Regions from separate parts of the Homo sapiens genome. Here region 1 is reported to be linked to region 2. The links are microRNA targets in miRTarBase. Many come from high-throughput screens and were not tested one by one. Region 2 holds a microRNA gene; the other region holds the end of a gene's coding sequence.

Evidence for each region. The annotated mature microRNA hsa-miR-5685 reads ACAGCCCAGCAGUUAUCACGGG and lies in region 2 at 1,862-1,883, opposite strand. An mRNA with a match to its seed (bases 2 to 7 or 8) in the 3' UTR can be bound and repressed. Matches are read on the target gene's strand: a 7mer-m8 pairs with bases 2 to 8, a 7mer-A1 pairs with bases 2 to 7 and ends in A, and an 8mer does both.
Region 1: the mRNA of SEC14L3 is a reported target of hsa-miR-5685. The part of its 3' UTR that is shown has no 7-base or 8-base seed match.

The regions. Positions count from the first base shown.
Region 1 is chr22:30,456,530-30,460,529 of GRCh38, forward strand. SEC14L3 (SEC14 like lipid binding 3) reads right to left here. Exons shown (of 12, transcript NM_174975.5): 12 at 2,700-3,613. The coding sequence ends at 3,492. Among named protein-coding and RNA genes, the nearest start is that of SEC14L3, 13 kb to the right of the region's middle.
Region 2 is chr6:53,274,362-53,278,884 of GRCh38, reverse strand. MIR5685 (microRNA 5685) reads right to left here and starts at 1,892; the gene lies at 1,814-1,892. ELOVL5 (ELOVL fatty acid elongase 5) reads left to right here. Exons shown (of 8, transcript NM_021814.5): 4 at 2,629-2,706; 5 at 3,624-3,795.

The DNA.
Region 1 (4,000 bases), not on the chromosome of region 2:
GGAGGGGTGCCAGCCTCTTTTAAGCAATTGTAGAATAAGAACTCACTCATTATGGCGGGCAGGCACCAAGCCATTCATGAAGGATCTACCGCCATGACCCAAACACCTCCCACTAGGCCCCACCTCCAACATCGGGGGCCACATTTCCTCCTGAGATTTGGAGGGGACAAATATCCAAACTCTATTAGTGACCATTGGCCAAAGCTACAAAGTGGGTCTCTTTCCTTCCCCAATGCTGCCTCCTGGAGATTCAGGACTGGAGCTGAGCATCTAGACCCTGAGTAAGACTGGAGGCTAGAAGCTGGAGCTTGGGAAGCCTGCCTCTTACTGGCTGTGTGCACACAGTGGGAGCTGGCTTGCCAGGGGTGGGCATCAGCGGATGCTGATGGGCACTTTGCAGATCTCAGCTCTGGCCCTGGCCTTAGGTTCTTTGCACTGCTCCACCTCCTGGTGCAAGTCCCCTCCACTCAGCTGCCACAGAGGAGCTCTGGCAACAGCACTGCTCATCTTAGTCCCAAAGGCACAAAGGGTCCACACTCTCTACCTCAGACCCTGCTTCAACATCGAGGCCTTTCCTTTGGTGGTCAAGGGTGAGACCACCCTGTCCCCCGACCCTGCATCACCCACACTAAGCCATCCTCTCCCAAGGATTCCATGACATCATTGGCCCAAATTGTGGGTGCTGCCACCGTCTTCCAAGAAGGTGAACCCATCCCCCTCTTTCCATCCTCCTCCCTTTCCTCTCTCTTCCCTCCATCTTCCCTCATTGGTAGGATTGTCAGATAAAATATAAGATGCATAGGTCAATTTTAATTTTAGATAAACAATGGATACATTTTAAGTATGTCTTTTTTTTTTTTTTTTTTTTTTTTAGATGGAGTCTTGCTCTGTTGCTCAGGCTGGAGTGCAGTGGTGTGATCTCAGCCCACTGCAATCTCCACCTCCTGGATTCAAGAGATTCTCATGCCTCAGCCTTCTGAGGAGCTGAGATTACAGGTATGTGCTACCTCCCCAGGCTAAATTTTGTATTTTTAGTAGAGACGGGGTTTCACCACATTGGCCAAGCTGGTCTCGAACTCCTGACGTCAAGTGATCCGCCTGCCTTGGCCTCCTAAAGTGTTGGGATTATAGGCATGAGCCACTGCACCTGGCCATGCTTTTTTTTTTTTTTCCTTTCTAAATCTGACAACCCTCATTTTCTCTTCTCTTCCTTCCTTTTTCCTTTCTCCTTCCTCCTCCCTCCTCCTTCCCTGCCAGCTCAGGAAGAAGGCAGTCTTGTCCCATTCTGACAAATTGTTATAGAAGAGTGGTGGGGGTGAAGAGGTGACGGGGTAAGGGGCAGCCTTAGCTCCAGGACTATTTCTGTCACCTGTAGGCTGAAGATACAAGGCCAGTGCCTTTGGGAGCTCAGTTTCCCATCTATAAAGCAGATATCAGATTTTGCACCCATAAGTGCATGTGGGAAAGTGCTTGCTGCTGCTGAATATTTGCTTGACTAGCCTGAGTCAGACCTCATAGCCTGCCCACGGATGAGCTCAGCCCTCCGTTTGTTTGTTTCCAAGGAGCCTCTCATGGCACCAGCCTTTGGTTCCCATTCATCCCCATTCCCGGGTGTGATCCGGCTCCCCTGGCAAGAGTTGTGTCAGGGACTGGGGCTCAAGCCAGCCTCTTCACGTCCCCGAATCACAGCAGAAAGTTGGGAAGGAAACTCTGGAGTCCTGGCCTTTGCCCTAGTCACCCAGGGTCATGGTGAGCGTCAGGGGGTTGTGCTTCACAGATGCCATGTGAGCAGCGGACAGGATGCTGAGCTGAGGAACACAAGCCCTGCCCCACTCTGCTGTGAATTTCCTTGGACAAGCTGCTTCAGTATTGTGGGTCTCTATGGCCTATCACCTCCTCTACCCACAAACAGGGACTGGAGAGGGTGACATGCAGGACACTTCTACTGGAAGGTCTAGAACAAATAAATCATGCCTTCTCACTGCCTTTGTAAAAGTGGAATCTTAGGAGGTCATATTCTTACTATATTAAATTTTTTTGATAGAGATGTGGTCTTACTATGTTGCCCAGGCTGGTCTAAAACTCCTGGGCTCAAGCGATCCGCCCATCTCAGCCTCCCCAAGGGCTGGGATTATAGGCAGGAGGCGGTATTACAAGGCAACTGAGAGCAATGTCATTGGAGTAAACAAAGCAAAAACAGGCCAGGCATGGTGGCTGAGGCCTGTTATCCCAGCACTTTGGGAGGCTGATGGGGGGTAAATCACTTGAGGCCAGGAGCTTGAGACAACATGGGGAAACCCCATCTCTACAAAAAAATACAAAAAAATTAGCCAAGTGTGGTGATGCCCACCTGTAGTCCCAGCTACTCAGGAGGCTGAGGTGGGAGAATGGCTTGAGCCCAAGAGGTCAAGACTGCAGTGAGCCATGATTGTACCACTGCACTCCAGCCTGGGTGGGCGACAGAGCGAGACCCTGTCTCAAAAAACAAACAAACAAACAAATAAACAAACAAACGAACACCCCCTGCCCCAGGTCCTGGATCTGCCACCCAAGCTGTAAGATGTTGAGTGAGTAGCTTCACCCCTCTGAGCCTCCATTTCCTTATCCATAAAGGGCCTTGGGGATGGCATGAGAATAAAACATGCTAAACTCACAAAGCTCTTGGCACAGTTTCTGGTACACAGAGAGCACTCGCCAAATGATAGTTGTTTTCTTTATTATGATTATGCCAGATGTGACTGCCTTTGCTTCCAGGAAAGTCCCTAAAACATAAGCTATGTGCAACAAGGGAAGTGGGTTAGGGTGGGAAGCTGAGCGTGCAAGTCAGACAAAGCCTGATGTAGGCAGCTCCTATCAGAGGCATGTGGCCTTTGTGGCTGGGGCCCTCAAAAGACAGCCACTGCCAGAAATCTGGAGACTGAATTGTCTGGGTCTCCAGAAGAGAGTCCAACCCCACCACACATCTGCTCCTGTCCAAGGTGCTGAAATCCACCCCACATAGGCTCCTCCTAATCATGTACAGCTGTTGAGTCACCTGCACCCTACCTTCTGGTCCTCCATTCAATGCCACAAATATACACTGAGCATCTACTATATATAGGGAGTGGAAGTAAAAAGGATTTAGATATGTCTCCAACCCAAGTTGCTCACAGCCATACGGAAGGAATTCAAGCATACACACCTGCCTTAGGGTAGGTGAGGACAAAGGCTAGGGGATTCATTTTGCTATTTATTGAGTTTCATGACACCCACTTCTTGCCTTTACCCTTGCTTTTTCCTCTTCTGCAACCTTGGTACCCTCCAAGGTTGTGCCTCTCATACCTTTCTTGATCTGACCACAGTAGATGAGTTTTCCCCAGGGCATCTCTTTCTGTACTCACTAACGTCACAGAGTCAGGAGGACTAACAATCAATTTCAGGGAGGGAGGGAGTGTAGGATATAAACAGAGAAATCAAAGGGTTAGGAGGTCTCTGAGAAATGAGGGAGCCACCTAGACAGGGGTGAGCTCCTTATCATATTTCTGCATGCCCTCGTCAGGGAGCAGGACCTCCACTGTGAAGCTGACCTTCTTGGCGTGGACAAAGCTATAGGTGTTGTCGAAGCGTAGGACATCTGGGGGACAGATGGAAAGAGGGGCATTGGGCTTGGCTTTACACACTCTTTTTTCCACCCCTGGCCATGGAGGAGGACAGGCTTGTGTTCCCACTGGCTTTGTTTGCCAAGCTGGGCCAAGCTCCCACCACGCCTCTTCCCTTCCCCATGGGAACTGCCAACCCAAGCAGGTCCTGTAAACAGACACCAACCTCCTCTTGGCATGTGCCCAGGCATGGCTTTACTGGCATCGAGAACAATGGTCATTACATCCCATTGTCTCACACCTGGAGACGCACATGACGGGGCTGTGAAGGCACATGGTTGGGTTCATCAGAGACCTCCCAGCCCCCTTGGATGAAGTGGGGTTCTGGGGCAGGCCTGCTGGACACTGTTTGCCTCCTCACA
Region 2 (4,523 bases):
TCTGAAGGCAATGATGACTCACTGGAGGGTTTTAAATATGGAAATATGGAATTCAGTGGTTTGAGGGGCACAGCGGCCCCAGTGGAAGTGTGGTAGGTGTGAGTAGCAGTGGAGGGAGTGTTGCATTGAAGCATGACAGAGCTCCTACAGGGAACCTCAACAGGTGGAAGAGGAATGGTGGGCCTAGGTCAAGTGGAGTGGCACCGAGTGAGCAGCTTCTTGTGTGTATACCTGGTTTATGCTTCAGGAGTGAAAAAAGTTCACCACCCAATACTGAGGTTTGAGTTCTTTAACTAAACTCCAAAGACAACAGGTGTTTTATACATGGATTCCCCTGCCCCATTTATGGGTGGGGAGAGGGCAAATGGAACGTTAGGTTAACTAGTTTAAAGAGTCAAGGCAATCCCACCTGGATCCCTTCTTAAAAAGGAAGCCTGTGTCCAAGAGTCCCTTCTGCTGAGTTAACAAGACCCCTTCAACCCGTTCTCATCTTTGGGATTGAGGCGCCTGCAGAATTACAAGAGAGGATTTGTCCTCCTCTTCTCCAGAGAGCTACCTTGATTTTCCCCACCCCTGCCAAGATAGACATTCATGAATGCAGTCATCCACACCTCCACAAGTGCACACACACCAGCCATCCTATTTTAAAACAGACAAAAGCAAAACCAACCCAGGATGTCTCTGGACACCATAAACCAAAATAGTCGCTGGAAAAAACAGTGATGGTAGGTTCCAGATTTAAGATTCATAAAATGGTAACATTTCCAAAAATATCTCTGATGAAGACAGTCATATGTTAGTACGTTTTTAATTTTGCCAAGAGAGGCTGCTGTTTTAAAAAAGAGGATCTTTTACATTGCACGAATTTATCTTCATGAAAACCTTACTGCGTTGTCCTTATTTTTCTTATTCGCGGTTGTCCCACAAACATTTCATCAAGAAGCACCAGTTTCCTTTCTGTACCCTCAAGCCACAGGAGGTAGTTCCTTGGTTCCCTCCTGGGGTAGAAAGAAGGGCAGCAAAAAGAGCACTGTGCTAAGCTGGCCCTTCCCTCTCCACCCCAGGTCTCAAGAGTGCATGCCAGCTTCCTCCCCCGACCTCCAACGCACTTTGGATTCAGACTTTGTGTCTTGCTTCTTAGGACTTCTGATCAGCCTGCATGGATCCTGCTTGACTGGCCATGACTTTAGAGAGTAGTAGAAGACAGAAAAGTTAATACACCTTCTAATGAATTACCATGTGGGTACTGATCTTTCAAAGATAGTATAGAATAGTTTGTTGTGTGGTCTGTTTTTAAAGTCTGTTAACATGAAGCTACAGAAATTTGGAACAGACCCTTTAGAGATAATTTAGTCCAACCTCATCATTTTATAGTAAAAACAACAAAAGCCCACAGGAATTAGCTGGCTTGCCCCAGGTGCTGGGCCTGGCACTCAAGCCTTCCTCCTAATTCCATGGCTCTTCATCATGAACTGATGCTTCTCCCATGCTAAATCCTTGTGCTCTTCTTTGGCCATGAAAAGCCTGTTAACTCTCAGTGCTTTTTTATGTGTAGAAGGTGACAAAGCAGAAGGAAAATGGCAAGAAGAAAGATAACCAAAGAAAAATCAGATAGAAGGCAGGATACCCAGCGTGAGTGCAGCGGCTACACCCATTTTTTGCCATTTATTTCTGATGTCAGACCAGGTGGAAATATCACAAGGTGTCTTCAGATCCTTGTAATCACCTCTTGTTCCCTGGGGGGGAATCTGTGTTGCTCGCCAAGCTAAACTCTTGTGTTCAAGGACAGGGAACACAAGAATTGGGGTGCAGACTCTACATCACAGCCCTGCAGTTATCACGGGCCCATTGAGGGGAGGGGCCCGTGATAACTGCTGGGCTGTGATGTAGAGCCTGTACCCCAGTTCTGGGGTCCTCTCTGTGACAGCATAGTGCCTACTGTGCTGCAAGTGATTCTGAGGCATGGGCACTTGTGAAGCCTTCAGTTTGTGAAGCCTAATTCATGGATCCGGAGGATTGTACATACAACAACAGGAAATAATGAAGATAAAGTTGGACTAAATTATCCCTGAGCCTACAGCAGTGGTTCTCAAAGTATGGTTTCCACATCAGCAGCATCAGTATCACCTGGACCTTGTTAGACATACAAATTCTAGGCCCCCAGACCTACTGGAACAGAAACACCCCCAGGGACCCATGTTTTACTAACTCACCCCTCAGGTAATTCTGGTGCTGCACACTCAAGTTTGAGGAGCACTGGCTTAGGGAAAGCAGCCAGAGGCTTCTGTGGGGCAGAGCAGGGAGCCTGTGATTGGCTTGGTCTGGGCACTTGTGCTAGGACCAAGGGGGTGACGGGCTGAGGGTTCTGCAGAGAAGCAGCGTGGTAAAGGAAGGTCTCTGAGGGCAGCAGCCTGGGAGTGACTTTTAAGCCCACCCCTTAGGAAATTGAGACTCAAGTCATTAAAGCTTTCCTTTTGTTTACACTTGCCTACAATTGTTTTTTCTCAGAGCAAACTTGGCTCAGCACAGCCCAAGGTAAATTATCACAGATTCTGCAACTAATAAAGTTCAATGAGGACTTTACATGGCTCAGATGCTGTTGGTGACTGGCTCTTTCTTCTTTTTTAGTTAGTAACAGGAGTATGGGAAGGCAAATACAACTTCTTCTGTCAGGGCACACGCACCGCAGGAGAATCAGATATGAAGGTACTGTCTCTTTTTCAGAAACTTTATTATTATAAGTGTTGAGTTTTTAAAAATAAATTGTATAAAATACAAAATGGCCCATAACCTCACTGCCCAGGCAATCCCTGTTGATATTTTTAAAAGAATAAAAAAGGCAATATATACACATCAAATTAAAATTTGAATGTGAAAGGTATAAAATAAAACCTAAAGCATCCCCCTCTGTAAAAATAACTCCGGTTAACAATTGGCAGGAAAAATCACATGCAGTCAGTATGTTATATTTACACAATCAGGATCATAAGAGCAATGTCTTAAATTTTTAAAATCATTCATCCAAGTACTTTTTTCCGAGTAGTGGTGTTAAAAATAAAATCTGACTTCCACTCATGAGGTTTGTTTTAAATCACAGGCCAACAGTCGCAGCTCAGCATGGGCAGTCATCTCCTTAGAGCACTTGTTTGACATGTTTAATTGGGCAGAGACCTGACACTGCAGGTTCTGATTCCTTTTCTTCTGTGTCACTTATCAGGTCGGCTGCTCCATGTTAGTCCCTGAAATCAATAGCGTTTTTCAGATGGTTTTCCTTTGCTAATGGCTGTGCAGGCTGCTTCCAGAGGGAATAGGCAGACTTCAAGGTTTTGAACCTTGAGCCTCATGTTTTTGTTAGTCTCAAAGAGTGTCAGGGACCCTTTCAAAAATATTCCCTGTAGTCATTTCAAACCCCTCCAGCTGTCCCAACCCAATCATGTTCTTTGGTTAAAGGTACTTGGAGAGTGACCATAGCTCCCAGCCACTGATGGACATTAAGAGCTCTTGGGGCACTCGGGCTTCTCCGAGTTGACATCAGATTTTTGGATATTAGTGAAACATGTCAGAGGTGATATTCCAGAGAAGCCGTGAGGATAAGCCTTAAATCTTTGACCCTTTCCTCTTAGATTATCCGTGTCCTCTGGTGGTACTACTTCTCCAAACTCATAGAATTTATGGACACTTTCTTCTTCATCCTGCGCAAGAACAACCACCAGATCACGGTCCTGCACGTCTACCACCATGCCTCGATGCTGAACATCTGGTGGTTTGTGATGAACTGGGTCCCCTGCGGCCACTGTAAGTATTAGAGACGGGGACTTGGGGAACAGGTGTGAGCAGGGAGGAGAGTTGAAACTAAGGCTTTCAGAAAAGGTGCTGTTTCTGTAAATGTCTAGGTCAGGCTTTCAGCTTTGTGTTCAAGTTGCTTTTAATGATAGTTTATGTACCTATGCACACAAAACCCTTTTTTAGTTAAGTGAACTTTCTGTGCTGATTGGGTGAGATGAGGGAGATACCACTGGGGACATATTAAGGAATAGGTACAATATTCTCTGACTTAGAGGGCAACTTTCCAGGTTCTTTCTGGTCCTTCTGTATGGTGTGGAAGGTTTGAGACGGGCAGGTGAGGAAAATAGGATCACACTGTTGCATGAGTACCAGGGAGCAAGGCTCATTTTGAAATACAGCTTTAGCTGTCATGCATTAGGAAGTCTCCACATGTTCTAACAACCCTCATATTCCCTGAAGCATGGTGATCAAGGTGTCTTCTATAACGAGCACCAAAACTTGATATAAATTTTCTAAGGTTGTACTTGGTTTTTGGAAAGCTTGTAGTCCAAAGTTTCTTATAATTTTCAGAGATTGCCACCTTCAGATTCAGCCTGGGAGTTTTAGCAAATGTCTCAGTCAAAAGTCCCGTCATCCAAACACTGAAGAATTTAACTGAGAACCTATGGGTCTATTTATGGATATTTTTTTCTCTGGGATAGCACTGCCCTTGATTACCTGAGCCTGCTAAGATTCAC